Regions from separate parts of the Homo sapiens genome. Here region 1 is linked to region 2. Evidence: fine-mapped expression QTL. A gene starts in region 2. The other region holds a variant in brackets. All regions are shown on one strand. Distances are between the middles of the regions.

Region 1 (15,090 bases), 33 kb before region 2:
CGAACTCCTGACCTTAAGTGATCTGCCTGGCTCGGCCCCCCAAAGTGCTGGGATTATAGGCATGAGCCATTGTGCCTGGCCTTCACATTCCTTTTGGATTTAAAGTCATTTATTGTGAATTGAGCGCAGTGGCTCATGCCTGTAATCCCAGCACTTTGGGAGGCTAAGGCAGGCAGATCACCTGAGGTCAGGAGTTCGAAACCAGCCTGGCCAACATGGTGAAATCCCGTCTCTACTAAAAATACAAAATTTAGCTGGGCGTGGTGGCACATGCCTGTAGTCCCAGCTACTTGGGAGGCTGAGGCAGGAGAATCTCTTGAACCCGGGAGGCAGAAGTTGCAGTGAGCTGAGATGGCACCACTGTACTCCAGCCTGGGCAACAGAGCGCGACTCTGTCTCCAGAAAAAAAAAAAAGTCACTTATTGGGGTATTTGTATGTTATCCTCCTCTTAATTATATTAAAAAATACTTCTTAGTAGGAAACTTAAAAGCTTCTAAAAAGTATGACTAAGAAAATCCACCTGTATGCCTGTCAGTCAGAGATGACCTCTTGTGACTTTTCCCTTCCCCTCTATTTCTAAATAGTGTTTTGTTTGTTTTTATAATAAGAGTTGAATTTTTATATTTATGCAACTTTGATTTCAAGTGTTTTCAATTTAATGTTATAACATTAGCATTTCCCCCTGGCAATTAAAAATGCTCAATGAGCATAATTGTAATGGCTTTATAATATTGTATTATGTCACTATGGCTGAATTAATATTTCCATATTTTTGGAAATGTAGGTTATTTGTAATACTTTTAAGTGAACTCTAGTTCTCACAAAGGAACAATATATTGAGCATTTTAATGTCAGGAATTTACTTTGTCCCCACTGACCCGTGACTGCTTTGGGACATCAGTGCTTGTCTGTGTGTGTGGAAGATCCGTATCTGCCTTTGCTCAAAGTTCAGCACATAAAGGGTAGATTTTTGGCGTTAACTGCAGACAGTCCATAAACTGTTATAATGTTTTCTTAATCATTTTAAAACCACCCATAAACACAGTCTTACCCAACCTTTTGTTTCCTTGCGAAACCTCATTTTATGTAGCAGGAGGGCGGTGCTACAGTGGTCAGCAGTGTGGCTGGTGCCCCTGAGCCGGTCACTGGGGGTCCTCTAGGGGCCTCTGCTCCTGGCCACCAGAGTCTCCTAATGGTGTCTGTGTGTCTCTCCCCTCAGGGCTGAAGGAGATAACTTATTAATCTGTCGAAGGCTTATGCCGAGCCAGAAGCCGAAGCCACTTGCCCTCCTGGAGGAGACCTGCAAGCTCCCTGAGCGGTGGGCGGGCCTCGTCCGCAGGTCTCATCCCACACTCTTGAGAAGCCTTGGTCACTACAGTGGTCGCACATGTTCCTCTTCCTGTTCCTGTTGACATGTCGTTGTTTAAATAAATCTCACTTGCCACCAGTCGCCTGTGGTTGGACCTCTGCTGGCTGCCGCTGCTCGTTCCGTGCCCCATGGCTTGGGCGGGCCAGGGTTCACCTCTGTGTTAGCTAAAGCCAAGGACCCCAAGTCTGCTTTGACCTTGGCTTACTCCCTGTGAGTCACACCCGGCCCATGACCTTGAGTCCATTTTAGGATCTACTCCCTCACATGCTGTTTGTTGCAGCACATGACATTGTGCCTCACTCCCTGACCCTTGTCCTCCACCAGATGTGAGGCTAGTGCTCTTCTCGGGCTCCTGTCTCCGCCCTGGCCACACTGGCCTGCTCAGTTGCCTCCTTCATCTTGGTCATGGTGGCAGGCTGAAGAATGGCCCCTAAAGTGTCCATGTCCTGATCCCCAGAACCTGTGAGTGTGTGTTACCTTCTGTGGCAAAGGGGCTTTGCAAATGGGATTAGGGGTTTGAGATGAAGAGGTGGTCCTGGGTTATCCAGGTGGGCCTGATAGGATCACGGGGTCCTCATTAGAGGGACAGACGAGGCGTCAGAGTCAGAGGGGCCCAGACAAGAAGCAGGGGCAACCAGGGGATGCTACCTAGGGCAATAGCAGCAGACCCTCCCTTGGCCTCCAGCTGGAACTGCCTGCCAACACCTTGATGTTAGCCCAGAGAAATCGATTTCAGATTTCTCACCTCCAGAGCCGTAAGAGAATACATCTGTGGTGGTGGTTTTTTTTTTTTTTTTTTCTTTTTTTTAGATGGAGTCTTGCTCTGTTGCCCAGGCTTGGAGTGCAGTGGCGCGATCTCGGCTCACTGCACCCTCTGCCTCCCGGGTTCAAGTGATTCTTCCGCCTCAGCCTCCCAAGTAGCTGGGATTACAGGTGCATACCATCATGCCTGTCTAATTTTTGTATTTTTAGTGGAGATAGAGTTTCACCATGTTGGCCAGGCTGGTCACGAACTCCTGACCTCAAGTGATCCGCCCGTCTTGGCCTCCCAAAGTGCTGGGATTACAGGCATGAGCCTCTGTGCCCAGACTGATCTGTGGTGTTTTGAGCCACCAAGTTGGGGGCTTAAACTTACAGCCACAACTAGAAGTCAATGCAGTTATGAGACAGGTTCATAGGGCCCCTGAGTGATGACCTCATATTTCAGAAACATAAGGCTTGTCCCATACCTGTCTGCTGAACTCCCTGAGTGATGGGTAGACCTTGTCTACAGGGACTTCTTAAGTTATGTGACTGGCGCTGCGAGCCTGAACCTGCATGTGCAGGGTGGCACTGCAGAAGTCCCCAGCGCTCTCCTCTGCTGGAGAGGTAACAGCCTCTCTTCTACCATTCAGAATCCTTAAATCAGTGTCCCCTAGAGTGTGGGCCCTGCACCTCTAGTGGCATGCCAGTTGATGGGATGTGTTCCTATCAATAAATACCTGTGATAAAATGTATAAATTAGGTGCAGTAAGACTAGCAACAATTTAAAAAAGAACAACTATAGCAATATGTTAAGGTTATGTGAATGTGGTCTTTGAAGATATCTTAACTGGCCGAGTGCAGTGGTGCACGCCTGTAATCCCAGCACTTGGGGAGGCCAAGACAGGTGGATCCTGAAGTCAGGAGTTCGAGACCAGCCTGGCCAACATGGTGAAACCCCCCCCCCACCGCCCCGCCGCCTGTAATTCCAGCTCTTTGGGGGGCTGAGATGGGCAGATCACAAGGTCAGGAGTTCAAGACCAGCCTGGCCAACATGGTGAAACCCTGTCTCTACTAAAAATACAAAAAAAAAAAAAAAAAAATCCGGGCTTGGTGGCAGGCATCTGTAAGGCAGGAGAATTGCTTGAACCCAGGAGGCAGAGGTTGCAGTGAACCGAGATTGCGCCACTGCACTCCAGCCTGGATGACAGAGCAAGACTCCATCTTGGAAAAAAAGAAAATATCTTAGCTATACTCACTTATTTTTGGACCTCAACTGACCTCAGGTAACGGAAACCTTGGAAAACAAAACCACAGGAAAGGGGTAACTCTGGTATATGTATAGCATTAGCAGAAACAATGTTTACTTTTTTTATTGAGACGGAGTCTTGCTCTGTCACCTAGCCTGGAGTGCAGTGGCGCGATCTCAGCTCACTGCAAGCTCCACCTCCCGGATTCACGCCATTCTCCTGCCCCAGCTTCCCAAGTAGCTGGGACTACAGGAGCCCGCCACCATGCCCAGCTAATTTTTTTTGTGTTTTTAGTAGAGATGGAGTTTCACCACGTTAGGCAGGATGGTCTCTATCTCCTGACCTCGTGATCCACCTGCCTCGGCCTCCCAAAGTGCTGGGATTACAGGCGTGAGCCGCCGTGCCTGGCCCCACAATGTTTACTTTTTGTTGTTGTTGTTTTCAGAAAGGGTCTTGCCCCATCTCCCAGGCTGGAGTGCAGTAGTGCAGTCATAGCTCTCTGCAGCCTCAACCTCCTTGGGCTCAAGTGATCCTCCTTCCTCAGCCTCCTGAGTAACTGAACCACAGGCACACACCAGCAAGCCTGGCTATTTTTAACTTTTTTTGTGGAGACAGGGTCTCCCTATGTTGCCAGGGGTGGTCTTGAACTCGGGTTCAAGTGATCCTCCCATCCGTCCTATTCCAAATTTGATATTGAAATTAGGCCAGTTAATAACCCTACAATGGCCTCTACATGCTCAAGTGAAAGGAAGAGTCACAAAGAGTCACATGCCTTTCACTTTAAATCAAAGCTGGAAATGATTAAGCTTGGTGAGGAAGGCACGTCAAAAGCTGAAATAGGGTCGGCTGTGGTGGCTCATGCCTGTAATCCCAGCACTTTGGGAGGCCGAGGTGGGCGGATCACCTGAGGTCAGGAGTTTGAGACCAGCCTGGCCAACATAGTGAAACCTCATCTCTACTAAAAGTACAAAAATTAGCCTGGTGTGGTGGCAGG[C/T]GCCTGTAGTCCCAGCTACTTGGGAGTTTGAGGCAGGAGAATCGCTTGAACCTGGGAGGCAGAGGTTGCAGTGAGCGAAGATGGCACCACTGCACTCCAGCCTGGGTGACAGAGTGAGACTCCATCTGAAAAAAAAAAAAAAAAAAAAAAAAACTGAAATAGGCCGAAAGCTAGACCTCTTGTGCCAAACAGCCAAGTTGTGAATGCAAAGGAAAAGTTCTTGGAGGAAATGAAAAAGTGCTACTCCAGTGAACACATGAATGATAAGAAAGCGAAACTGTATTATTACCGATATGGAGAAAGTTTGAGCGGTCTGTATAGAAGATCAAACCAGCCACAACCTTCCCTTAAGCCAAAGCCTAATCGAGAGCAGGGCCCTAACTCTCTTCAATTATGTGATGGCTGAGAGAGGAGAGGAAGCTGCAGAAGAAAAGTTGGAAGCTAGCAGAGGTTGGTTCCTGAGGTTTAAGGAAAGAAGCCGTCTCCATAACATAAAAGTGCAAGGTGAAGCAGCAGGTGCTGATGGAGAAACTGAAGCAAGTTGTCCAGAAGATCCAGCTGAGATCATTGATGAAGGAAGGTGGCTACACTAAACAACAGATTTTCAATGTAGGCAAAACAGCTTTCTCTTGCAAGAGGATGCCATCTAGGACTTCCAAAGCTAGAGAGGAGAATTCAATGCCTGGCTTCAAAACTTCATAGGAAAGCCTGACTTCTTAGTGTCTAGTATGAAATGCAGCTGGTGACATTAAGTTAAGGTCAGTGCTTATTTACCATTCTGAAAATCCTAGGGCCCTTAAGAATTATGCTAAATCCACTGGGTGCAGTGGGTCATGCCAAGGCAGGCGGATTGCTTGAGGCCAGGAGTTCGAAACTAGCCGAGCCAACATGGTGAAACCCCATCTTTACTAAAAAATACAAAAATTAGCTGGGTGTGGTGGTGCATGCCTGTAGTCCCAGCTACTTGGGAGGCTGAGGCACGAGGATTGCTTGAACCTGGGAGGTGGAAGTTGCACTGAAGCAAGATTGTGCCACTGCACTCCGGTTTGTGTGACAGAGTGAGACTCTGTCTCAAAAAAAAAAAAAAAAGGTGCCAAATCTGTGTGCTATAGAAATGGAACAACAAAGCCCAGGTGACAGCACATCTGATTACGGTGTGGTTTACTGAGTATTTTAAGGCCATTGTTGACACCTACTACTGAGAAAAAAAATTACTTTCAAAATATTATTGCTTATTGACAGTGCACCTGGTCACCAAAGAACTCTGACAGAGATGTGCAAGGCGATGAATGCTGTTTTCATGCATGCTGACACAACATTCATTCTGCAGCCCCACGGATCAAGGAGTAATTTTGACTTTCAAGTCTTACTATTTAGAAATGTATTTTGTAAGGCCAGGTGCAGTGGCTCACGCTTGTAATCCCAGCACTTTGGGAGGCCGAGGTGGGTGGATCACAAGGTCAAGAGTTCCAGACCAGCCTGGCCAATATGGTGAAACCCCGTCTCTACTAAAAATACATAAATTAACCCGGCGCAGTGGCGGGCGGCAGTAGTCCCAGCTACTTGGGAGGCTGAGGCAGGAGAATCGCTTGAACTTGGGAGGCAGAGGTTGCAGTGAGCCAAGATCACGCCACTGCACTCCAGCCTGGGCGACAGAGTGAGACTCCATCTCAAAAAAAAAAAAAATAATAATGAAATACATTTTGTAAGGCTGTAGCCACCATAGGTAGTGATTTCTCTGATGGATCTGGGTAAAGTACATTGGAAACCTTCTGAAAAGGATTCACCATTCTAGATGCCATTAAGAACATTAGTAGCCGAGCACGGTGGCTCATGCCTGTAACCCCAGCACTTTGGGAGGCCGAGATGGGCAAATCATTTGAGGTCAGGAGTTCAAGACCAGCCTGGCCAACATGGTGAAACCCCCTTCTCTACTAAAAATGCAAAAATTAGCCGGGTGTGGTGGGACATGCCTGTAATCCCAGCTATTGAGGAGGCTGAGGCAGGAGAATTGCTTGAGCCCGGGAGGCGGAGGTTGCAGTGAGCCGAGATCACGCCATTGCGCTCCAGCCTGGGCCACAGAGCTAGACTCCGTCTCAAAAAAAAAAAAAAAAAAAAAATTAGTAATGCATGGGAGGAGGTCGAAATATCAACCTTAATGGGTTTGGATGAAGTTGATTCCAGCCCTCATGGATGATTTTGAGGCATTTAAGACTTCAGTAGAGGAAGGAATTGCAGATGTGGTGGAAATAGCAAGGTAACTAGAATTAGGAATGGAGCATAAAGATGTGACTGAATTGCTGCAATCTCATGATCAGACTTCAACGGATGAGGAATTGCTACTTATGAATGAGCAGAGAAAGTGGTTTCTTGAGATAGAATCTACTCCTACATCCTTGAAGATGCTGTGAACATTGTTGAAATGACAATAAGGGATTTAAGATGTTACACAAATTTAGTTGATAAAGCAGCAGCAAAGTTTAAAAGGAATGACTCCAATTTTGAAAGAAGTTCTACTGTGAGTAAAATGCTGTAAAACAGCCTCTCTCGCCACAGAAATCTTTCGGGAAAGGAAGAGTCAACCAATGAGGCAAACTTCATTGTTGTCTGCACAGCCATTCACTGATCTTTCAGTAACCACCACCCTGCTCAACCAGCAACCATCAACATCAAAGCAAGACTCTCCACCAGCCAAATGATGATGACTTGCTGAAGGCTCAGATGATCATTAGCATTTTTAAAGCAATAACGTATTTTTAAAGTAAGGCATGCACATCTTAAAGACATAATACTATTGCACACGTAATAGAATACAGTATAGCATAAACATAACATTTATATGCACTGGGAAACCAAAAAATTCATGTGATATTCACTTTATTGAGATGATCTGGAACTAAACCTGCAATATCTCTCAGATATTCCTGTACGTGAAATCTTTCGAAAGAACAATATTTGTTCTTTTTTTCTTTTCTTTTCTTTTCTTTTTCTTTTTCTTTTTTTTTTTTTTTGAGATGGAGTCTTGCTCTTGTTGCCCAGGCTGGAGTACAATGGTGCGATCTCTGCTCACTGCAACCTCCGCCTCCCAGGCTCAAGCGATTCTCCTGCCTCAGCCTCCCGAGTAGCTGGGACTACAGGTGCACAACACCGCACCCAGCTAATTTTTGTATTTCCAGTAGAGACGGGGTTTCACCATGTTGGCCAGACTGGTCTCGAACTCCTGACCTCAGGTGATCTGCTTGCCTTAGCCTCCCAAGGTGCTGGAATTATAGGCGTGAGCCACCACGCCCGGCCTGGATTTCTTATATATAAGATCATGACAGACATAATGTTACTTCTGTGCCATTTTGGATGCCTTCTCTTTGTTTTTCTTGCACAATTTCTCTGTCTACCTTCAATCCGATATTGAATAGAAGTAGTAAAAAGTGGACATCCTTGTCTTATGCCTGCTATTGGAGAAAAAGCTTTTAGTCTTTCGTTGTTGAGTATGATATTAGCTGTGGGTTTTTTTATATGGTCAGGTTGTGTATGGTGGCTCCTGCCTGTAATCCCAGCAGTTTGGGAGGCTGAGGTGGGAGGATTGCTTGAGGTCAGGAGTTTGAGATCAGTCTGGGCAACATAGGAAGACTCTTTGTTTACAAAAAACTAAAAAATTAGCTGGGCATGGTGGTGCATGCCTAGCTACTTGGAGGCTGAGGCAGGATGATAGCTTGAGCCCGGGAGTTTGAGGTTACAGTGAGTAATGATCATGCCACTGCCCTCCAGCCTGGACAACATAGCAAAATCCTGCCTCATAAATAAATAGTCTTTATTATATTGAATTAATTTCCTATTTCTAATTTCGTTGAGTGCTTTTTAAATCATGAAAGGATATAAATGTTCTCAAATTTTTGTTTATATCAATTGAGATGATTGTGTGTGTGTGTGTTTTTTTTTCCCCTTTGGTTAATGTGGTACATTACATCGGTTGATTTTTGTACATTGGGCCACTCCAGGAATAATTCCACTTGGTCATGGCATATAATTCTTTTAATATACTGCTGAGTTCAGTTTGCTAGAATACCAAAAAAAGCCAGGCGTGGTGGCAACATGCCTATCATCCAGCTACTGAAGAGGCTGAGGTGGAAAGATCACTTGAGCTGGGGAGTTGGAGGCTGCAGTGAGCCGTGATCAAGCCACTGAACTCCACGCTGAGCGACAGTTTTCTAGAATTTTCGTTGAGGATTTTTGTATCCATCTTTTTTATTATTGTTGTTGAGACAAGGTCTCACTCTGTCGCTCAGCATGGAGTTCAGTGGCTTGATCACGGCTCACTGCAGCCTCCAACTCCCCAGCTCAAGTGATCTTTCCACCTCAGCCTCTTCAGTAGCTGGGATGACAGGCATGTTGCCACCATGCCTGGCTTTTTTTGATATTTTTTCTGTAGAGATGAGGTTTCGCCATGTCGCCCAGGCTGGTCTCAAACTCCTGAACTCAAGCAATCTGCCTGCCTCAGCCTCCCAAAGTACTGGCATTACAGGCTTGAGCCACCACAACCAGCCTAGTAATGTTCTTTTCTTTTTTGAGACAGAGTCTCACTCTGTTGCCCAGGCTGGAGTGCAGTGACACAATCTTGTTCACTGCAACCTCCACCTTCAAGGTTCAAGCGATTCTCGTGCCTCAGCCTCCTGAGTAGCTGGGATTACAGGCATGTGCCACCACGCCCGGCTAATTTTTTTTTTTCGAGATGGAGTTTCACTTTTGTCACCCAGGCTGGAGTGCAATGGCACCATCTTGGCTCACTGCAACCTCTGCCTCCTGGGTTCAAGTGATTCTCCTGCCTCAGCCTCCTGAGTAGCTGGAATTACAGGCGCCCGCCACCACGCCTGGCTAATTTTTTGTATTTTTAGTAGAGACGGGGTTTCACTGTGTTGGCCAGGCTGGCCTCAAACTCCTGACCTAGTGATCCACCCGCCTTGGCCTCCCAAAGTGCTGGGATTACAGGCGTGAGCCACCATGCCTGGCCAATTTTTGTATTTTTAGTAGAGACGGGGTTTCACCATGTTGGCTAGGCTGGTCCTGAACTCCTGATCTCAAATGATCCACCTGCCTCGGCCTCCCAAAGTGCTGCTGGGATTACAGGCGTGAGCAACTACACCCGGCCTCAATCTTTATATGAGATATTAGTCTGTAATCTTCTTCCAGGGTCTTCATTTAGCTTTGGTACTGGGGCCATGCTTTTAGAATCAGTTAGGAAGTGTTTCCTCCTTTTTCTTTTTTCTTTTGAATTAGTTTGAGAAGAATTGGTATTAATTAAACATGCATTCGCTGCATGTGTGTGGAGTGTCCTGCACATGTCTGTTAGGTCCAGTTTGTTCACAGTGTTGTTCCTGTCCTCTGTTTCCTTATTCATCTTCTCTCTAGCTGTTCTCACCATAGGCTTCAGACTCCAAAGCTTATCTGAGACCTTGATCTTTTTTCTTTTTTTCTTTGAGGCAGAGTCCTGCTCTGTCACCCAGGGTGGAGTGCAGTGGCACAATCTCAGCTCACTGCTACCTCTGCCTCTCGGGTTCAAGCAATCCTCCCACCTCAGCCTCCCTAGTAGCTGGGATTACAGGCAAGCGCCACCATGCCGAGCTAATTTTTGTATTTTTAGTAGAGATGGAGTTTCTCCATGTTGACCAGGCTGGCCTCGAACTCCTGACCTCAGGTCATCCACCCGCTTTGGCCTCCCAAAGTGCTGTGATTACAGGTGTGAGCCACCGTGGCCGGCCTGAAACCTGGATCTTAACCCTAATTAACCAAACAGAGGGAAAAGTCTGATGTCTCCTAGATGGAATTCCCAGGAGCCTATCTTAACCTCCTCTTAGGTGACTCACCAGCTTCTCAAACAACATTTCTAAAACCAAATACATCTTTCCCCCTCTCCTAAATAACTTTACTTTTCTTTTCTTTTTTTTTTTTTGAGACGGAGTTTTGCTGTGTCACCCAGGCTGGAGTGCAGTGGTATAGTCTCAGCTCACTGCAGCCTCCACCTCGCAGGTTCAAGCGATTCTCTTGCCTCAACCTCTGAGTAGCTGGAATTACAGGCATGAGTCACCACATCCAGCTAATTTTTGCATTTTTAGTAGAGATGAGGTCTTGCCATGTTGGCCAGGTTGCTCTCGAACTCCTGACCTCAGGTGATCCACCCTCCTTGGCCTCCCAAAGTGCTGGGATTACAGGCATGAGCCACCACGCCTGGCCCTAAATAGCTCTTCTTTAATGAGCTTTGAATTCCTTCCCAGCAGGACCTCCACTCCACTCAGCATCCTCAGAGTCATCGACTCCTTGCTTCTCCTTGTTCTCCTCACTGGCTAGGAGGCCATGTTTGGTTCCTTTTCCTCAATCAGCGTGTTTATCATAACTGTCTCTACTGTACTGCTGCCACCCAGACTCAGTCTTCTGTCTCACAAGAATCTTTTTGGCCTTTGTTCTCAGCCTCCTGCATTCCTGTAGACAACAAACCTGTCCCCTGAAGCCCTGAGCACATCATTCCAGTGACCAAAGACTGTCAAAGCTGCCTCTTTGCTTAATGCCTGAACGCCCAACTCTTAACAAGGCAAGGAAGATGCTCTGTGATTGGGCCTCATCTTACATGTAGTCTTATTTTCTAGTCAAAAAACCAGGTGCCGCCAGGCTGTATCTAATGCCAGCCTCTCTCCTTGGCCTGTGCTTTCCCCAGAGTTCATGCCTGCAACCCTGCCCACCTTCAAAGCCCACCCCAAATGCAAACTTCCTTGACCCTTTCATTTTTTTTTTTTCCTCGAGATGGAGTCTTGCTCTGTTGCCCAGGCTGGAGTGCAATGGCATGATCTCAGCTCACTGCAACCTCTGCCTCCCAGGTTCAAGCAATTCTCCTACCTCAGCCTCCTGAGTAGCTGGGATCACAGGTGTGCGCCACCACACCCAGCTAATTTTTGTATTTTTAGTACAGACGGGGTTTCACCATGTTGGCTAGAGTGGTCTTGAACTCCTGACCTCAGGCAATCTGCCCTCCTCGGCCTCCCAAAGTGCTGGGATTACAGGTGTGAGCCACTGCACCTGGCTCCTTTCATTATTTTATTATTTTATTCAATGAAAGATAAGCACCTACTGTATAAGCAAGACAGACATGACATATGCCCTTAAGGAGCTTTCATTCTTTTGGAGGACTGTCAAATATGCCTTACTGTAAGGTATGGCAACCTTTATGTGGGAAAGCCATGGATTCACCTAACAAAAGCAGCTTATTGGCTGGGTGCAGTGGCTCATGCCTGTAATCCCAGCACTTTAGGAGGCCAAAGCAGGCGGATCACTTGAGGTCAGGAGTTCGAGAGCAGCCTGGCCAACATGGTGAAACCCTGTCTCTATTAAAAAAAAAAAAAAGAAAATTAGGCCAGGCGTGGTGGCTTACGCCTGTAATCCCAGCACTCTGGGAGGCCGAGGCGGGTGGATCATGAGGTCAAGAGATCGAGACCATCCTGGCCAACATGGTGAAACTCCGTCTCTACTAAAATACAAAAATTAGCTGGGCATGGTGGCACGTGCCTGTAGTCCCAGCTACTCCAGAGGCTGAGGCAGGAGAGTTGCTTGAACCCGGGAGGTGGAGGTTGCAGTGAGCCGAGATCGCACCACTGCACTCCAGCCTGGCGACAGAGTGAGACTCTGCCTCAAAAACAACAACAACAACAAAACTAGCCTTAGCGCGGCATGGTGACGCACACCTGTCATCCCAGGTACTCAGGAGGCTGAGGCACGAGAATCACTTGAACCCAGGAAGCGGAGGTTGAGCTCTCAGTGAACTGAGATCGCACCACTGCACTCCAGCCTGGGCAACAGAGCAAGACTCCGTCTCAAAGAAAAAGAAAAAGAAAAAAAGAGAAGCAGCTTTTCCATTTAAGCTGGCCGAGGAAGCTTTCCTGAGACTGTCATACAAAGTCCCCTAGGCAGATGGATTCGCATTCGCAAGAGAGCATGCCTGTATACCCGTGTCTTCCGTCATTACTAACCAATTGCATATTTGTGCTTCTAATTGCTTGTGTTAATTTATTCCGTCCCTATAACAACTCCACGTCAGTTTGTTTTAATCCTCACTTTTTTTTGAGACCGGGCCTCACTCCTGTCACCCATGTTGGAGCGCAGTGGCATAATCGCAGCTCATTGCAACCACTTTGGGCTCAACGGATCCTCCCACCTCAACCTCCCAAGTCTAATTAGCTAGGACTACAGGCATATGCCACCATGCCTGACTGATTTTTTATATTTTGTATAGATGGGGTCTCACCGTGTTGCCCAGGTTTGTCTTGAACTCCTGGGCTCACGCCGTCCTCTTGCTTTGGCCTCCCAAAGTGTTCGGATTACAGGCGTGAGTCACTGTGCCCAGCCTTATTCTCATTTTAAACATGAGGAAATAAGGGTATGTGGAAATTGTGTAATTTGTCCAAGGTCATACAGCCAATCAATGATGGAACTGAATTTGAAACCAGGCAGGTTGGCTTTAGAGCCTGTGCTTTTGACTGCTATGTTATATGTGTCTCCTTTCTCCCTGCCCTTAATAGCACATAAAATCTTTTTCTTTTCCCCCAGCACCACCATTACATGAAGGTGTGGGGTCTCATTTCTTCCCATTTGTCAGGTTGGCTTATTTCTCCTTTTCTGGGCACCCCTTGATGCTGTTGATGAAGAATGACCCTCTCCTCAAAAGTCTTACAGTTCTTAGTGAGGCTTTTGAATACTTAGTTGCAGAAACGGCTTTTGAAATGCACTATCTAAATGGTTTCAGGAATACGCCATTAATTGATGAATGCCACCAAGAGCTTGGATTCATGCCTTCTGCTCTGTCTTCCTTGGCATGTTGACTTTTTTTCTTTTTTTGGAGACAGGGTCTCACTCTCTCGCCCAGGCTGGAGTGCAGTGGCGTGATCTTGGCTCACTGCAACCTCTGCCTCCCTAATATAATCGGTGAGTTATATTACCCACAGATGTGCACATTTTATTGTCTCGCACAGATGCTGGAAGTAGACCACAAATTTGACTTCCCCCCAAGTCCTCTCAAGGATTGAAACATGATTCAAGTGCCTCAACTTCCTGAGTAGCTGGGATTATAGGCATGCGTCAGCATGCCCAGCTAATTTTCATTGTTTTTTCTGTGTGTGTTTTGTTTTATTTTTCAGTAGAGATGGGATTTCACCCTGTTGGTCAGGCTGGTCTCGAACTGCTGGCTTCAAGTGATCCACCTGCCTCGGCCTCCCAAAGTGCTGGGATTACAGGGGTGAGCCACTGCGCCTGGACAGCATGTTGACTTTTCATCTTCAGCTTGTTGCCTCATGATCACAAAGTAGCTCCCAGAGTGCCAGGCATCATAACTGCATTCATGGCAGGAAAAAAGATGGGTCTTTTTTTTTTTTCAGTGGTTTCTGTCTTTTTTATCCAGAATAAAATTGTTCCCAAATATGCCTAATAGACTTCCCTCTGTATCTCATGCTAAGAACTGGGTAGGGTTGCCAAATGAAATACAGAATGCCCAGTTAAATAGAATTTCAGTAAAGAACACATAATTAAAAAAATATATAACTGGGACCCATGTAATATTTGGCACATGCATACACTAAAGAAATAATGTGTTGTTTACCTGAAATTTGCAGTATACTTACACTAAAAACATTATGTGTTGTTTACCTGAAATTCAAATTAACTGGGCGTTCTGTATTTTTTTTTTTTTTTTTTTGCTAAATCTGGCAACCCTAGAACTAAATCTATTTGGAAGAGACGGTGGGAAATAGAATATCTGGCTTTCGAGCTTTTATAATACAAGATGGGCAAAATACACAGGACTTTTAGATCATCGGCTACCCAGTGTGAAGTCATTTTGGTTGTGTTCACTGTAGCGTGCAGAGAATTGGTTTGTTTTGTGTTTTGTTTTGTTTTGAGACAGAGTCTCCCTCTGTTGCCCAGGCTGGAATGCAGTGGCGCAATCTCAGCTCACCAAAACCTCCTCCTCCCAGGTTCAAGCGATTCTCCTGCCTCAGTCTCCCGAGTAGCTGGAATTACAGGTGCCAACCACCATGCCTGACTAATTTTTGTATAATTAGTAGAGATGGGGTTTCACCATATTGATCAGGCTGGTCTCGAACTCCTGACCTCAAGTGATCTGCCCTCCTTGGCCTTCCAAAGTGCTGGGATTACAGGCGTGAGCCACCGTGCCCAGCTGAGAATAGGTTTCTATAACGTCAGAAAATTTATGAAGTTTGAGGCAGGGTCAAACGATATTTTTTCATCTTATTGTTATTTTTTGTTTTGTTTTCTTAAGAGATGGGGTCTCACTGTCTCACCCAGGCTGGAGTGCGGTGGCATAATCACAGCTTTCTGCATCCTCAAACTCCTGACTCAAGGGATTCCATCTTAGAGGCTTTTATGCCTTTCATTTTTGGGTGGGAGAAGTGGATATCTGATCATGAATAAAGCATCTGTTATGGGCAGGAGATATATTTATATTTTGGTTTATTTCTTTATATCCCTCCTTGTTCTACAAGGGGAATTGAGATACCTGATAAAACTACAGCAACAGGATGGGCATGGTGGCTCACTCCTGTAGTCCCAGCATTTTGGGAGGCTGAGGCAGGCGGATCACAAGGTCAAGAGATCGACACCATCCTGGCCAACATGGTGAAACCCCATCTCTACTAAAAATACAAAAAATTAGCCGGGGGTGGTGGCTACTGCCTGTAATCCAGCT
Region 2 (16,430 bases):
AGATTAAGGTTTTTTTTTGTCTGTTTATTGATCATTTGGATTTTTTCTTCTGTAGAGTTATTTAATTTGGATGTAGATAAAAAGGATAAAAGAGATAGAAAAGGAAGACGGAGTGCCAAGCTCTCAGTAGGTTCTCAGAAAGTGGTAGTCATTTTTATTGTTCAAAACATGCAGATGAAGAGAAGCTGGACCCTTGCTGATGAGACTTAGTGGACTTCTTCCTTCGTTCAAGGACTTTTTGGCTGTAAAGCATTCTGAAATAGCCAATATAACTGGTTACTCGTGACTCGAAAGACGTTCAACACCTTGACCTTGACACTGCAGGGGAGAATAGAAAGAGCTGGTGACTTCTCTGAGGAAGGAAGTTGCTCAGGTGCAAACTTCCATCCATCCATCCATCCATCCATCCATCCATCCATCCATGGGTGAGTTCTTTAACTTCTTTGTGCCTCGTTTTTATCATCTGAAGATGGTGATAATAAGTGATAGGACTTATCTCAAAGGGGGGTTACAAATACATACCGAGTGTTTAGCATGGTGTTGGAGATGTAGTGAGTAGTTGAGAAATGTCTTCTCAATCTTGCAGTTTGAGAAGACAGAAAGGTGAAAACTAGACTTACTTCCAATGGCTAGTTGCCCTGAGCTCCAAGTGGTAATACATTGAATACAATTGCAAATCTACCGAGATGGAAAGAAAGCAGTTTCAGAAGAGAATGACAGGTTCTGCTTTAAGTTTCTGTGGTTGTCCACAGAGCACAGCCTAAATTGTCAAGTCTCTGCATTATAAATGGTGTCTAGCTTTGAGAAGTTATTAACCTGAAACCCAGTATCTCTGGAATTTGGGGATGATGTATCTGCAAGAACTGTTCTCTTCTGCAAGTACTTGAAATACAAGAACATAAATTCTTTAATTCAGAGGACCCCAAACTTTCTTGGTTCACTCTGTGCGGAGGCCCCCCCCAAAAAAAATACCTAATAGCTCTATTTATTAAGGAATTAGGTGCAAAACACTTAAAAAGTTCTTATGTTCTAACAACTTAGTAGCCATTTGTAAAAAAACCCCACATGTACACAAAACATTCACATATATTGTACAGACAATAATACACATACACTGAATAAGACAAGTACATTAAAAACATATTTTATTTATATTTGTATTTCATTCTTAAATAATTACATAACCTCCCAGCAGGTTCACCTTGCCCGCTGCCTAGACAGAGCCAATTTATCAAGATAGGGAAATTGCCATAGAGAAAGAGTAATTCACGCAGAGCTGGCTGTGCAGAAGACCAGTTTATTATTACTCAAATCAGTCTCCCCAAGCATTCAGGGGTCAGAGTTTTTAAGGACGACTTGGTGGGTGGGAGTAAGCCGGTGAGTCAGGAGTGCTGATTGGTCAGAGATGAAATTATATGGAGTTGAAGCTGTCTCCTTGCGCTGAGTCAGTTCCTGAGGGAGCCCACAAGATCACATGAGCCAGTTTATCCATCTAGGTGGTGGTGCTAGCTGATCCATCAAGTACAGGGTCTGCAGAATAGCTCAAGTACTGGTCTTAGGTTTTACAATCATATATATATATATTTTTATATCTATATATTTTATATTATATATATATTTATTTTATTTTATATATATATATATATATATATATATATATATATATATATATATATTTTTTTTTTTTTTTTTTTTTTTTTTTTTTAAGATGGAGTCTTGCTCTGTTGCCCAGGCTGGAGTGCAATGATGTGATCTTGGCTCACTGCAATTGCTGCTTCCCAGGTCCAAGTGATTCTCTTGCCTCAGCCTCCTGAGTAGTTGGGACTACAGGTGTGTGCCACAACGCCCCACTAATGTCTGTATTTTTTTTTTTTTTTTTTTTTTTTTTTGAGACGGAGTCTCGCTCTGTCACCCAGGCTGGAGTGCAGTGGCGGGATCTCGGCTCACTGCAAGCTCCGCCTCCCGGGTTCATGCCATTCTCCTGCCTCAGCCTCCCAAGTAGCTGGGACTACAGGCGCCCGCCACTACGCCCAGCTAATTTTTTGTATTTTTAGTAGAGACGGGGTTTCACCGTTTTAGCCGGGATGGTCTCGATCTGCTGACCTCGTGATCCGCCCGCCTCGGCCTCCCAAAGTGCTGGGATTACAGGCGTGAGCCACCGCGCCCGGCCTAATGTCTGTATTTTTAATAGAGACGGGGTTTCACTATATGGCCAGGCTGGTCTCAAACTCCTGACCTCAGGTAATGAACCTGCCTCGGCCTCCCAAAATGGTGGGATTACAAGGGTGAGCCACTACATCTGGCCTATATATACGGTCCAAGATGGCTGCCACAGCAGCAGCGTCACATCTGGCACAACAGTGCAGCCATCAAGGCAAGAGAGAAGGGAAAGGTGAGATGCCAGGGTAAAATGTGACCTGTTTCTACACTCCATCTGGACCTGGTGGGGGATGGCAGACAGGTATAGATGCAGAGAAGTCTTGCCAACCAAACAGGGATAAAGATTAGAAGCCTTGGTCCTGTTAACCAGACCTGGATTTGGAAAACTAGGAAGTTTGCCAGCCAAAGAATTTTTTAGGAAGACAGTATCTCCTTAGCCCACTAGGTTTTTCAGTGGTTTTGAGAGACAGTATATTGTGTATGAGGACATCAGGACATACTCTAAAACTCTCATGTAGTGGAAATATGTTGTTTTGTCTGAATGGCATTCAGGTTTTCCCTGGAAGCCACTAGTTTTCTTTTTCTTTCCTTTTTTTTTTCTTTTTTTAATTAAGACGGACTCTTGCTCTGTTGCCAAGGCTGGAGTGCAGTGGTGCAATCTTGGCTCACTGCAATCTCCACCTCCCGTGTTCAAGCAATTCTCCTGCCTCAGCCTCCTGAGTAGTTGGGACTACAGGCGCGTGCCACCATGCCCGGCTAATTTCTTGTATTTTTAGGAGAGATGGGGTTTTACTGTGTTAGCCAGGATGGTCTCGATCTCCTGACCTTGTGATTCACCCGCCTTGGCCTCCCAAAGTGCTGGGATTACAGGCATGAGCCGCTGCACTGGCCTAGTTTTGGAGTTATGGAATCCAACCTTGCCTTGAGCAAGGGAAGGGTGTTTTTAGAGGACCAATAGGTAGTTTGCCCAGGCATCAGAGAGGACATAATATCTGATCTGAGATCTGAATGAGGAGTAGAAGTTGGCCAAGAGGGCAAACAAGGACTCCAAACAGAGGGACTGGCATGGACAAGGCCGGGTGAGGGTACATAGCTTATCTGATAAATTGTTTAGGGTTCATGTGGCAAGAGATGATTCAGGGGCTAGGAACTGAAGTCTCTGTGGCTAGCTAAGGGAGTCTGGGTTTGTCTTGGAACCATGGGACACACTGAATGATTTAATTCAGGGAAAAACTCAACTAGAACCATGGTCTCTGGGAAAGCAACAATTTCTAGTATGTGGCAGAAATTGCTCGATATTCATAAAATGCCTTTCTTTTTCCTCCTGGGCACAGGGCTAGACTACAATTCCCAGGCTCGATTGCAGTCAGGTGAAGCCACGTGACTGAGTTTGAGCCCATCAAATATAGGTGAGAGGGATATATGGTATTTCTAGGCCTAGCCCATAATAATTTCCTGCACAGCCCTCCACATTCTCTTTTTCCCATTTTGCTGGAGAAGATCTGAGGACCTAGATGGGGCAGCTCCAAGATGGAAGTGGCCTGGATCCCTGAGTCACCATTTGGAGACGAGCCTGTCATGGACTATTATGTGAGCAAAGAATCCATTTTTTGGGGGGTGGGGGGGTGGGATGGAGTGTCGCTCTGTGGCCCAGGCTGGAGTGCTGTGGTGTGATCTCGGCTCGCTGCAACCTCCGTCTTCCAGGTTCAAGCGATTCTCCTGCCTCAGCCTCCTGAGTAGCTGGGATTACAGGCGTGTGCCACCATGCCCAGCTAATTTTTGTATTTTTGGTAGAGATGGGGTTTCACCATGTTGGTCAGGCTGGTCTTGAACTCCTGACCTTGTGATCTGCCCGCGTTGGCCTCCCAAAGTGCTGGGATTACAGGTGCGAGCCAGTGCATCCAGCTTAGTTTTTCTTTGTTCAAGGGACTAAGCAAGAACAGATGAAGGCATGGGTGAAAACAAGAGAGAATTATTCTGGAAGCAGTACTGGCAGGATTTGAGCAAATAATGAGGGGGATGGGGAAGCCTTGGGTCAGACTATCTTATGTTGCTATTTATAGGATGTGGAAGGAAGGGTCTAAGAAACATCTTGTATGATGTGCTGTGGGATATGGAGGAGGTAGAGAACAGGGCTAAAAATAACCTTCCTAGAGGTGCAGATATTTGGCAGAGACCCTGTATTCCTGGGCCTCTCGCTGACATGGGCTGTCAACAAACTGTCACGCTCTTCTCTAGATATGTCCACTTCTGTCCTGAAGCAGATATTTTTATGTACACAGCCATGGGTGAGTTCTTAACTTCTTTGTGCCTCGTTTTTATCATCTGAAGATGGTGATAATAAGTGATAGGACTTATCTCAAAGGGGTTTACGAATATATACCGAGTGTTTAGCATGGTGTTGGAGATGTAGTGAGTAGTTGAGAAATGTCAGAAATGAGCATTAAAATTCCGTTAGCTCTAGCTTGACTTCTCTATCAGTGCATACAAACACTCAAAGATAAAGCTATGAGACAGAGCAGGATTTTGCCTGTCTTGTTCACTGCTACATCTCCAGCCAGCTTAGAACAGTGACTGGCTTGCAGCAGCTATTTAAATGTTTGGTGAGTGAATGAATGAATAAGGAACTCATCTCATTTTCTTTCCTTCCTCCTTCCTTTCTCCCTTCCTTCCTCCCTCCCTTCCTTTCTTTCTTCCCTTCTTTCCAACCATCCATCCATCCATCCATCCATTCATCCATCCACCCACCCATCTATCCATCCATCCATCCATCCATCCATCCATCCACCCACCCACCCACCCAACCATCTATCTATCCATCCATCCATCCACCCATCCATCCATGCATCCACCCATCCATCCACTTATCCATCCATCCATCCATCCATCCATCCATCCATCCATCCATCTCTCTTAGAAAGGCAGTAGAGTGTAGTGGGTTAGCTCACAAGTATTTTTTTTCAATTGTGGCAAGATACACATAAAATAAAATATGCCATTTTAACCTTTTTTTTTTTGAGATGGAGTCTCATCCTCTCACCCAGGCTGGAGTGTAGTGGTGTGATCTCAGCTCACTACAACCTCTGCCCCCCAGGTTCAAGCGATTCTCCTGCCTCAGCTTCCCAAGTAGCTGGGATTACAGGCGTGCACCACCACACCCAGCCAATTTTTGTATTTTTAGTAGAGACAGGGTTTCACCATGTGGCCAGACTGGTGTCAAACTCCTAAAATCAAGTGATCCTCCTGCCTTGGTCTCCCAAAGTGCTGAGATTACAGGTGTGAGCCAAGCACACCCAGCATTTGGAACCATTTTTAAGTGTACATTTCAGTGACATTAAGTACTTCACATTGTTGTGCCACTGTATCATCCATCCCAAAACTTTCCTCCCAAACAGGAAATCTGTACCCGCTAAACACAAACTCTTCATTCTCCCTTCCCCTCGGGCCGTGGAAACCACCATTCTACTTCTGTCTCTATGAATTTGACTAGTCTAGGTACTTCATACAAGTGGAATCAGATACAGTATTTATCCTTTTGTGACAGCCCACAAGTTCTGTGATCATATAAGCTGTGTAATCTTGGGAAACTCAATCTTCCTGACACTCCACTTCCTCGTCTGTGAAATGGTTGTAATAATAGTACCTGCTTCACAGGGTGGCAGTGAGGTTTAAATGAGATAATAGAAGGCACTTAGCCCCAGTGCCTGGCACATAGAAAGTGCTCACTATTAGCTATTAGTTACAGCTAAGCATGTATTGTAAATTAGTGGACACTGGTATTGTGTGTCTAGCACTGTCCTGAGCACTTTACCCGTATTATCTCATTTAAACTTCCCAACGACCCTATGACATGGTGAAACCACTAACATCCACACCTAACAGATGAGAAAACAAAGGCCCAGAGAGGCCAAGTCATGTGCCCAAGGGTTACATAGCTAGTTTACAGCAGAGCTGGGATTGAACGCCAGGCAGCCTATTTCCAAAGTTCATGGGTCTTGCCGCTGCATTGCATTACCTCTTGCCAGTCTCTGCTGCCTCTGTCTGTGAAGGATCGTCATCTATACACTCAGTCCTGGCTCAGGCTGTCACGGTGACTGCAGGTGTTTGAAGCTGTGGGACTCATTGGAAAAATAATTGAAAATGGGATTGCTGTTTCTTTCTTTTCTTTTTTCTTTCTTTCTTTCTTTTTTTTTTTTTTTTTTTTAGACAGGGTCTCACTCTGAGGCTGAAGTGCAGTGGCGCGATCTTGGCTCACTGCAACCTCTGGGTCCTGGGTTCAAGTGATTCTCATGCCTCATCCTCCTGAGTAGCTGGGATTACAGGCAAACACCAACACGCCCTCTCTTTCTTTCTCCTTCCTTCCTTCTTTTCTTTCTTTTTCTTTTTTCTTTCTTTCTTTCTTTCTTTCTTTCTTTCTTTCTTTCTTTCTTTCTTTCCTTCCTTCTTTTCTTTCTTTCTTTTTCTTTCTTTTTCTTTCTTTCTTTCTTTCTTTCTTTCTTTCTTTCTTTCTTTCTTTCTTTCTTTTTCTTTCTTTCTTTCTTTCTTTCTTTCTTTCTTTCTTTCTTTCTTTCTTTCTTTCTTTTCTTTCCTTTCTTTCTTTCTCTGTCTTTCTTTCTTCTTTCTCTTTCCTTTTTTTTTTTTTTCAGAGCCTTGCTCTGTTGCCCAGGCTGGAGTGCAGTTGCACAATCTTGGCTCTGCGCAATCTTCGTCTCCCAGGTTCAAATGATTTTCCTGCCTTAGCCCCCCAAGTAGCTGGGATTACAGGCGTGCACCACCACGCCCGGCTGAGTTTTGTATTTTTAGTAGAGACGGGGTTTCACCGTGTTAGCCAGGATGGTCTCAATCTCCTGACCTCGTGATCCACCTGCCTCGGCCTCCCAAAGTGCTGGGATTACAGGCGTGAGCCACTGCACCTGGCTGTTTGCTGTTTCTTAACATGTGAGGTTCCAACCCAGTGGGGCCCACTAACATGTGCTGTTCTGCTTTGGACCGTGGGGAGCTGGGGTGCTGGACCCATCTCCCACCTTCTACAGCCTGGAGTGTGCTCCCAGATGACACAGCCAAGCTGGCGTGTTTTTCCCTCACTGGCGGAAAGTTCAGCAATCCCTGACTCCCTCACCCTGCCCTGTTGAGATTTAAAAAAATTTCCTCTTCTGGGCCTCAGAGCCGCCTCCTACCTGAGGTTTATTGCTTTCTCTGCACCAGCATTGAGCCTCTGCAGCCCTTTAAAAGGGGCAGAGCCCATAGTGTGATCAGCAGGTCCTGTCCCTAGGAGATAAGAGTATCTTGCACAGCAGGTGCAGGTTTCCCAGCAGCTCAGGCAAGAGTCCGATGTTTGTGCCATCTGATCCTGATGTCTGGAGAGGTGAGCCCTCTGTCGGCATCTTCCTCTCCAGGCTGGCAGAGCAAGGGGGGCTGTGAATTAATTCAAGGTTGGGGGTCGGGGCCTTCTATATCTGGACTTGCCTCCCACCCGTGTCCTCTGTCCCTTTTTCCCTACGGCAGATAGCCATGTGTGAGCCTGAATTTGGCAATGACAAGGCCAGGGAGCCGAGCGTGGGTGGCAGGTGGCGAGTGTCCTGGTACGAACGGTTTGTGCAGCCATGTCTGGTCGAACTGCTGGGCTCTGCTCTCTTCATCTTCATCGGGTGCCTGTCGGTCATTGAGAATGGGACGGACACTGGGCTGCTGCAGCCGGCCCTGGCCCACGGGCTGGCTTTGGGGCTCGTGATTGCCACGCTGGGGAATATCAGGTGAGACCAGCTCTGAGGATTCAGCCTGATGCTGACTTGGGGCACTGGGTGTGGAAAGCAAAGGCGTTGTCAAGGACCCCTGGGCGCATACGTATTCGGGATTTCAAGGAGCGCTCTGGATAACTATGGGGTTGGGAGTCAGACTGGGGTCAACTCCAGACCCCGCAGCCTGTGAGCTTGTGACTTTGAGCAAGTCATTCTCTTTTTGAGTAGCTGGATCACAGGCATGCGCCGCAGCACCCAACTAATTTTTAAATTTTGTTGTAGAGATGGGGTCTCACTATGTTGCCCAGGCTAGTCTTGAACTCCTGGTCTCAAGCGATCCTCCTGCCTTGGCTTCCCAAAGTTTTGGGATTACAGGCATGAGACACCATGCCTGGCTGGCAAGTTACTCTCTAAACCCAAAGTTCCCCGCCTATAAAATGGGAATAGTAGCTTTTAAATGTTTTTTTTTTCAAGCCAACATATCTATATTGCTAACCATGTACCAGGCACTAGTCTAATTACTTTATAGATATTAGTTATTTAATCCTCACAAAAGCCTTGTGGGGTAGGTCCTGTTATTAGCCCCATTGTACAGCTGCAAAAGTGAAAGGCCATGTAATCTGTCCAAGCTTAGAGGGCCAGAAAGTGGCAGAGGCGGGAGTCAAGAACAAGCTGTCTGGCTCCAGCGCTCAAATCCAAGTGCCTCATGCGGAAGTCATGAGAATTAAATGAAGTAGAGCGCCTGGCACACACCAAACATACAACAGGCATTGGTTGCTGTGTTATTGTTACCACTAGAAGGGGGTTTTAGGGAAAGCAGAAATGCATAGAAGACCTGAGCCAGGTTTTCCCACCTGGGTATGCAGAGATCTGCAGTGGTCCTGGCTTGTCAAGAGGTGATCAAGAAGGAGGGGCAGGGAAAGGGACAGGCTTCTCTGGCTTAGCTCTCGTCTGGGTAGAGGCTCAATGGGGAGGTCTGTGGACATGGCTGCTGGTTCCCAGGAGAGCCAGCCATCACGACGAAGATCTTGAGTGGGGTGCCTGGCAGGGTGATCTGGGACATGGTTGGTCTGTATTAAATCTCACTCAAAAAATAGATCTGAATGAGGAAACAGAAATACTATTTCTGAGAAAACCAGAATGGAAAAGAGCTTTAACATCTCTTTAGGCCGGGTGCAGTGGCTCACGCCTGTAATCCCAGCACTTTGGGAGGCTGAGGCGGGTGGATCACCTGAGGTCAGGAGTTGGAGAGCAGCCTGGCCAACAGGGTGAAACCCTGTCTCTACTAAAGATACAAAAATTAGCTGGGCGTGGGGGCAGGCACCTGTGGTCCCAGCTACTTCGGAGGCTGAGGCAGGAGAATTGCTTGAACTGGGAGGGAGAGGTTGCAGTGAGCCGAGATTGTGCCACTGCACTCCAGCCTGGGCAACAGAGTGAGACTCCATCTCCAAAAAACAAACAAACAAACAAACAAACAAAAAACAAACCACATCTCTTTAGACGTCCAAGGGAGGCTGCAAGTGAAACAAAAAGTACATGATCTTCCCTTTGGACGGATCTGAGATTGAAGGCAACCTTTATCACTTCTTAGCAGGGTGACCACAGCAAGTTGCTGAAGCCTCTGTGTGCAGTGGTATAAATATGAGTAATAATAATAGCTGATGTTTTTTGAATGCTAACTACATAGATACTACTATGGGCTGTACAAATATTAATTCTTAATATCTTTGCAATAGCTTTATCAGGCAGAGATCATTGAGGCACAGAGAGGTTATGTAACTTTGCCAATGCCACACAGCTCTTCAGTGGCAGAGTTGAGCTTTGAACCCAGGCCAGCTGGCTGGAAAGACCATCTCTTTGGCACTGCAAATACTGCCTCTCTGTTTGGCTTTTTTGACAAATATTTATTCAGCACCTATTGCGTGCCAGACACTGACTTTGAGGTTGTTCACTGGATCCAGGATAAGCTATGTATGTAAGTTATAAGCACCCAGCACAGCCCCTGGCACACAGTAAGTGTCAGAGAAATATATGCTGAGTGAACAATGAATGAATGAATGAATGTGTCTTGATTGTTTTATTGCTAATGAGTGTAAACCAGGAAATGTGTGGTTTTCGTCACCTGGCCCTCCTGATAGAGCCATGCTCTGGGTGACAGTTTCTCTCCCCTTTGGGGCTCCCCTGGGAAGCCGCCTCACCCTGACTTCATCTGTGTATCTCAGCAGAGCCCAGGCTAAGCTACTTGAGGCCAAGTAGGCCTGGCTGCCCCTCTTCCCAACCTGTGGAGTCTGAGCACTGGCTGGTGCTTTCAAACCATGCATGGAGGTCAGGCGCAGTGGCTCACGCCTGTAATCCCAGCACTTTGGGAGGCCGAGGCAGGTGAATCACCTGAGGTCAGGAGTTCGAGACCAACCTGGCCAACATGGTGAAACCCCGTCTCTACCAAAAATACAAAAATTAGCCGGGCGTGGTGGCAGCCCCGTTATCCCATCTACTTGGGAGGCTGAAGCAGAAGAATCGCTTGAAACCAGGAGGCGGAGGTTGCAGTGAGCCGAGATTGCACCATTGCACTCCAGCCTGGGTGACAAAGGGAGACCCTGTCTCAAAAAAAAAAACAAAAAACAAAAAACAAATCAAATCAAACCGTGCATGGAGCTTATCTGAGGGCCTGGGCCCAGAGCTGAGCCAGACAAGTTGGGGTAGCTGGTCTCGAGCTATCAGGGTGTTGGACAAAGTCCTTTTGGGCAGAGCTGAGGTCCTCTGCCCAGTCTCAACTGAATGTCCTATGTCCTTTGGAGGATGGGTAAGCTCATTGGTGGGCTCTTTACATTAGGGGGGCACTTTGGTTCTCAAGTGACATGGGGAGTCTTGGGGTCCCTTTCTCTCTCATTGGGGAGTATCCATTCCTGGAAACCAGATGGATTCAGGAGGCCAAACTGTGACAATATTTCCTCCATCAGAGTGGGACTGGTTGGGACACTGATGTGAGTGCAGCCACCCTGGCTCTGGGGCCTGGGCTGGTTGAACATCTTGGTGAACACGAAGGCTCTTTACCCATGAGCCAGGGGGTGGCTGATCAACTGCAACCTGCCCTTTGACCTCAGGTTCTGACTTGTCTAATTCCCTTCCACACCCCAAACTCCCAATCCCAATCCCTAACCTGGTCATGAACCTCCAACTCCACCCCGTGATTCTCAATGCCATTTTCAGCCTGAACTCCAAATCTGCATTTTACACCCATCACACTTTCAGACCACAAGTAGGGTTTTCACTGGCTGAGCAGTTCAACCAATCAGGAGGTCTTATTCAGGGCCTAGCTACTCATAAAGGGAGACCCGGGCCGGGCACGGTAGCTCGTGCCTGTAACCCCAGCACTTTGGGAGGCCGACGTGGGTGGATCGCTTGAGGTCAGGAGTTTGAGACCAGCCTGACCAACATGGTGAAACCTCGTCTCTACTAAAAATACAAAAATAAGCCAGGCGTGGTGGCACACACCTGTAGTTCCAGCTACTTAGGAGGCTGAGTCAGAAGAATTGCTTGAACTCAAAAGGTGGAAGCTGCAGTGAGCCGAGATCACACCATTGCACTGCAGCCCGCGCGACAGAGCAAGACTCCGTCTCGTAAAATCAAACAAATCATAAGGGGAGGCCTGGATACCGCTCTTGGGCTACTAACTTGGAGCCTTGGTATCTCAATCTGACCTGTGGCCACATCTCTGAAGGGCTGGAGGGAGGCTTGGAGGGAGTCAGGGAGGAGTTAAGGGATGGTCTCCCTACACGCTCTTCCTCCAGGGCCATCCTGGGGGCTGGGCTTTGGACTTAGAGGCTGCCCTTTATCTCTTACCCTCTGCCTGGCATCTCAGGGAAAATGGAAGCAATTTGGTGCCTCTTTGTATTTGAGCTGGGCCCCGGACTGACTCTTGCCCTGAGAGGCCAGCCTGGTGGGTTGGCTGGGACACACTGTCTCAAGTGCCAGCCATGTGGTCAGCCCTGGGCTCATGACTTCCTCTGCTCTTGTGGGTTACAGTGGTGGACACTTCAACCCTGCGGTGTCCCTGGCAGCCATGCTGATCGGAGGCCTCAACCTGGTGATGCTCCTCCCGTACTGGGTCTCACAGCTGCTCGGGGGGATGCTCGGGGCTGCCTTGGCCAAGGTGGGTAAACCCCAGGGGCTGGGCTAGTCTTCCTCTCTGATGGGGCTGCTGGAGGTGCATATGTGGGTGTGTGTGTGGGACAGTGGGGAGTGGGGAAATGTCCAATCTTTTGCTTGTTTCTGCCAGTGGAATTGGTGGACGTTTTTCTTCTCTCTTTCTTTCTTATTGCATTTTATTGTATTTTTTATTTGTTTGTTTTTTTGAGATGGAGTCTTGCTCTGTCACCCAGGCTGGAGTGCAGTGGCCTGATCTTGGCTCACTGCAACCTCTGCCTCCTGGGCTCAAGCAATTCTCCCACCTCAGCCTCCTGAGTAACTGGGATTACAGGCGCATGCCACCATGCCCAGCTAATTTTTGTATTTTTAGTAGAGACGGGGTTTCATCATGTTGGCCAGGCTGGTCTTGAACTACTGAGCTCAAGTGATCTACCTGCCTTGGTCTCCCAAAGTGCTGGGGTTACAGGCATGAGCCACTGTGCCCGGCCTCTCTTTTTTATTTTAGAGATAGGGTCTCACTCTGTTGTCCAGGCTGGAGTGTGGTGGTGCAATCATAGCTCACTGCAGGCTCGACCTCCTGGGCTCAAGTGATCCTCCTGCCTCAGCCTCTTGAGTAGCTGGGACTACAGGTGTGTGTCACCACACCCAACTAATTTCCTCTGCCTAGGAAAACCAGAGACCTTTGTTCACTTGTTTATCTGCTGACCTTCCCTCCACTATTGTCCTATGACCCTGCCAAATCCCCCTCTGTGAGAAACACCCAAGAATTATCAATAAAAAATAAATAAATTAAAAAAAATTTTTTTCTGTAGAGGTGGGCTCTCGCTGTGTTGACCACATTGGCCTCCAACTCCTGGCCTCAAGTGATCTTCCTGCCTTGGCCTCCCAAAGTGCTGGGATTACAGACATGAGCCACCGAGCCTGGCCAGCCACAGAGTTTTCATAGCTTTATGCATAAATCCATGGATAGACTTTCTCCCTTCATCCCTCTTTTTCTTTTTTTTCCCTCTCTTTCTTTCTTTTCTTTTGCCCTTAAGTCTTGGTTCAGCCAGGGATACTTCAAGCCCTTCAAGATGTGGGCCTTGCTTGGTGTGTGTGTGGGGGGTGGTGGATGGGGGAGCTCTGTCAGCTTGGCTGTGATAGGGTCTGAAGCTGTAAGTGCTGACCCACCGCAGACTTTGTTCTCAAGCCTCACTTTACTGTCATCCCCTGCTGTGGTCTCTCCATGTCCCAATTTGAGAGCCACAGCCTGTTCCCCTGTCTATGGAACACGCCCGGGACCTTCCTTCTCGGCTTCTGCTCTGAAAAGCAGTGGCCAGACTCGAGCTCAAGCCCTGCCACTTAAAACCTGTCAAACATGGTTCTGACAGCTGCGGGGCAGCAGGGTTCCCTAAGCACATTCTTCCTGCTAAATGTTTTACACATATTCTCTTATTTCATCTCCCAGCAACTTTATGAAAAACCATAGTCAGTTCATAGAGAGCGCTTACCTTGTGCCAGGCACACCAACGGCCTTGTCTGTGAGCTGGGAGCTGTCAGTATCATCCCTATTTTATAGATGAGAAAACAGAGGTGCAGAGAAGCAGGTAACTTGCTCAAGTTCAGACGTGCCTGTAAGCAGCACAGCCCCGACTGGATCCAGAGTCCAGAAGCTTGTGCACTGCACTGTCTTTCCCCTTCGGGGCTGTGATAGCCCTGAGGCCGATCGCCCATAGAAATAATTGAGCTCAGGCTTCAGGGCTCTCCTGCACATGCCCCTTCCACGGTCCTGTGGGGGCTTAGCAATGAGTTCACCTGATCATATGTGTTTGTAAAGTTTCTAAGAGTAAGGTATTTTTAGCCACGCATGGCGGCTGGTGCCTGTAATCCCAGCATTTTGGGAGGCAGAGGCGGGAGGATCACTGGAGCCTAGGAGTTCCAGACCAGCCTGGGCAACATAGTAAGACCTTCCATCTCTACAAAAAATTTTAAAAAAAACATTAGGTGGGCATGGTTGGTATGTACCTGTGGTCCCAGCTACATGAGAGGCTGAGGTAGGAGGAACACTGGAGCCCAGGAGGTCCAGGCTGCAGTGAGCTATGATCGTGTCACTGCACTCCAGCCTGGGTGACAGAGCTAGACTCTGTGTCAAAGAAAAATAAAAAGATAGTTTATGTTCTTTTTCTCAAAGAGGATCATCTAAGTTACATAAGTTTTAGGTCTGTAACCTGGAGCCATGACTGGGTTATCCCCATTTTTCTTTTTCTTTTTCTTTTTTTTTTTTTTGAGACGGAGTCTTGCTCTGTTGTTCAAGCTGGAGTGCAGTGGTGTGATCTCAGCTCACTGCAACCTCTGCTTCCAGAGTTCAAGTGATTCTGGTGCCTCAGCCTCCTGAGCAGCTGGGATTACAGGTGCCTGCCACTTCACCCCGCTAATTTTTGTATTTGTAGTGGAGATGGGGTTTCACCATGTTGGCAAGGCTGGTCTCAAACTCCTGGGCTCTAGTGACCCACCCATCTCAGCCTCCCAAAGTGCTGGGGTTGCTGGCGTGAGCCACCACGCCTAGCCCCATTACTATTTTTCAGCTGAACAAAGTGAGGCTCAGAAAGGTTCAGTAGTTCACGCAGGGTCGCACAGTAAAATCTGGCAGAGCTGGGATGTGGATGCAGGTATATCTAACTGAAATTGGACATAACCCTTCACTGGCTCTTAAGGTGGGTAGCATGCGTTTTTTAGGCCCTCTCCCCTCAGTTTCCAGCTGTCTCTCTGCCCCACTGTGAGGCTCAGCAGCTTCTCTGTGCAGGCGGTGAGTCCTGAGGAGAGGTTCTGGAATGCATCTGGGGCGGCCTTTGTGACAGTCCAGGAGCAGGGGCAGGTGGCAGGGGCGTTGGTGGCAGAGATCATCCTGACGACGCTGCTGGCCCTGGCTGTATGCATGGGTGCCATCAATGAGAAGACAAAGGGCCCTCTGGCCCCGTTCTCCATCGGCTTTGCCGTCACCGTGGATATCCTGGCTGGGTGAGTGTCCCTTGGCAGTGGGGTGACCATGCCCAGATCTGTGCTGTTCAGCTCTGGGGGATTTCAGGCCTGAGGGTCACAGATTCAGTTGCTATTAGGGGCCAGGAAGGTGCTGCAAATGGGGAGGGGGGCTGGCATCAGGCAGACAACAGGGAGTGGTGGGGACTGCAGTGTCAGAGGTGCTGCAGTCAGTTCAGCTCTTGTCAATTATTGCTGGGTACATGGGTCTGGGCTGATGCTTTCATTCAAAGGAAGTCAGAAATTTAAATCTGTATGTGATGTTTTCCAATGTTGGTAGCGTAAATACAACATTTCTGTGAACTGTGTTCATTCGGTCAGCGGGCAGCCGGGTTTTAGCCTCAGGCTTACAAAGAGCATGTGTAGCTGTTGTCTCATTTATTTTTAGACTCCCAGCAGGCTTTGGAAGGGATTAAGTAGACAAGATTGGGGATGATGTCTCCCGTTTTATAGATAAGGAAACTGAGGCTTAGAGAGGACAGAAGTGACTTATTTAAGGTCAGTGGGCAGTGGCAAATTAAGTGATAGATTTGGGACAAGAGGCTGAGTGAACCCTTTTAATTTTTGTTGTAGAGATAGGGGTCACGCTCTGTTGCCCAGGCTGGTCTTGAACTCCTGGCTTCAAGCCATCCTCCTGCGTTGGCCTCTCAAAAGTACTGGAATTACAGGCATGAGCCACAGTGCCCAGCCCAGGGAGCCCCTCCCTAATGTCTGACTCTTTCCTTTCTTTTGGACACAGAACCAAGTCTAACCTTTCTCCTGGGTCAGCTCTCCCTCAACTTTGGGAGGTGGAGCCTGGGGCAGGCTGGGGAATGTGTGTGTAAAGCTGTGGCCATGCTTTGCTGCCCCCTAGTGGTCTTTGATTCACTTACAAGCCCTTTTTTTTTTTTTTAGCTCCGCTTCCCGGGTTCACGCCATTGTCCTGCCTCAGCCTCACGAGTATCTGGGACTACAGGCGTCCGCCACCACGCCCGGCTAATTTTTTTTTGTATTTTTGGTAGAGACGGGGTTTCACCGTATTAGGCAGGATGGTCTCGATTTCCTGATCTCATGATCCGCCCGCCTTGGCCTCCCAAAGTGCTGGGATTACAGGCTGAGCCACCGCGCCCCGCCTACTTACAAGCTTTTTGACTTCGAAGCTGGACACAGGGTGGGGATGAGGTCTACAGGCCCCCAGCTGGAGAGAATGGGGTAAAGACAGAGCCCCAGAACGAGAGGAGTGCACCTGGGGAAGAGTCTCCCTGTAGGATTCTGGGTCTTAAGCTTGTGGTGCAACAAGGGCCTCATCTGGACCAGCTAGATTAGTTAATGCTTTTTGTACATTAATTATATTCGAGGTGTGGGCTCCATTTGCATTTTCTCATTCAC

Evidence for each region. PIP is the estimated chance that this variant, and not a neighbour inherited with it, causes the effect.
Region 1: its variant is the best candidate, but not a certain one, in a credible set for the expression of AQP8 in cerebellum (GTEx, PIP 0.82).

The regions. Positions count from the first base shown.
Region 1 is chr16:25,176,781-25,191,870 of GRCh38, forward strand. It overlaps LCMT1 (leucine carboxyl methyltransferase 1), which reads left to right. Exons shown (of 11, transcript NM_016309.3): 11 at 1,221-1,448. The coding sequence ends at 1,243. It also overlaps the pseudogene RN7SL557P. Among named protein-coding and RNA genes, the nearest start is that of AQP8, 33 kb to the right of the region's middle. The variant C/T (reference allele first, on the strand shown) is at 4,356.
Region 2 is chr16:25,209,533-25,225,962 of GRCh38, forward strand. AQP8 (aquaporin 8) reads left to right here and starts at 7,415. Exons shown (of 6, transcript NM_001169.3): 1 at 7,415-7,525; 2 at 7,666-7,913; 3 at 11,925-12,051; 4 at 14,830-15,044. The coding sequence starts at 7,514.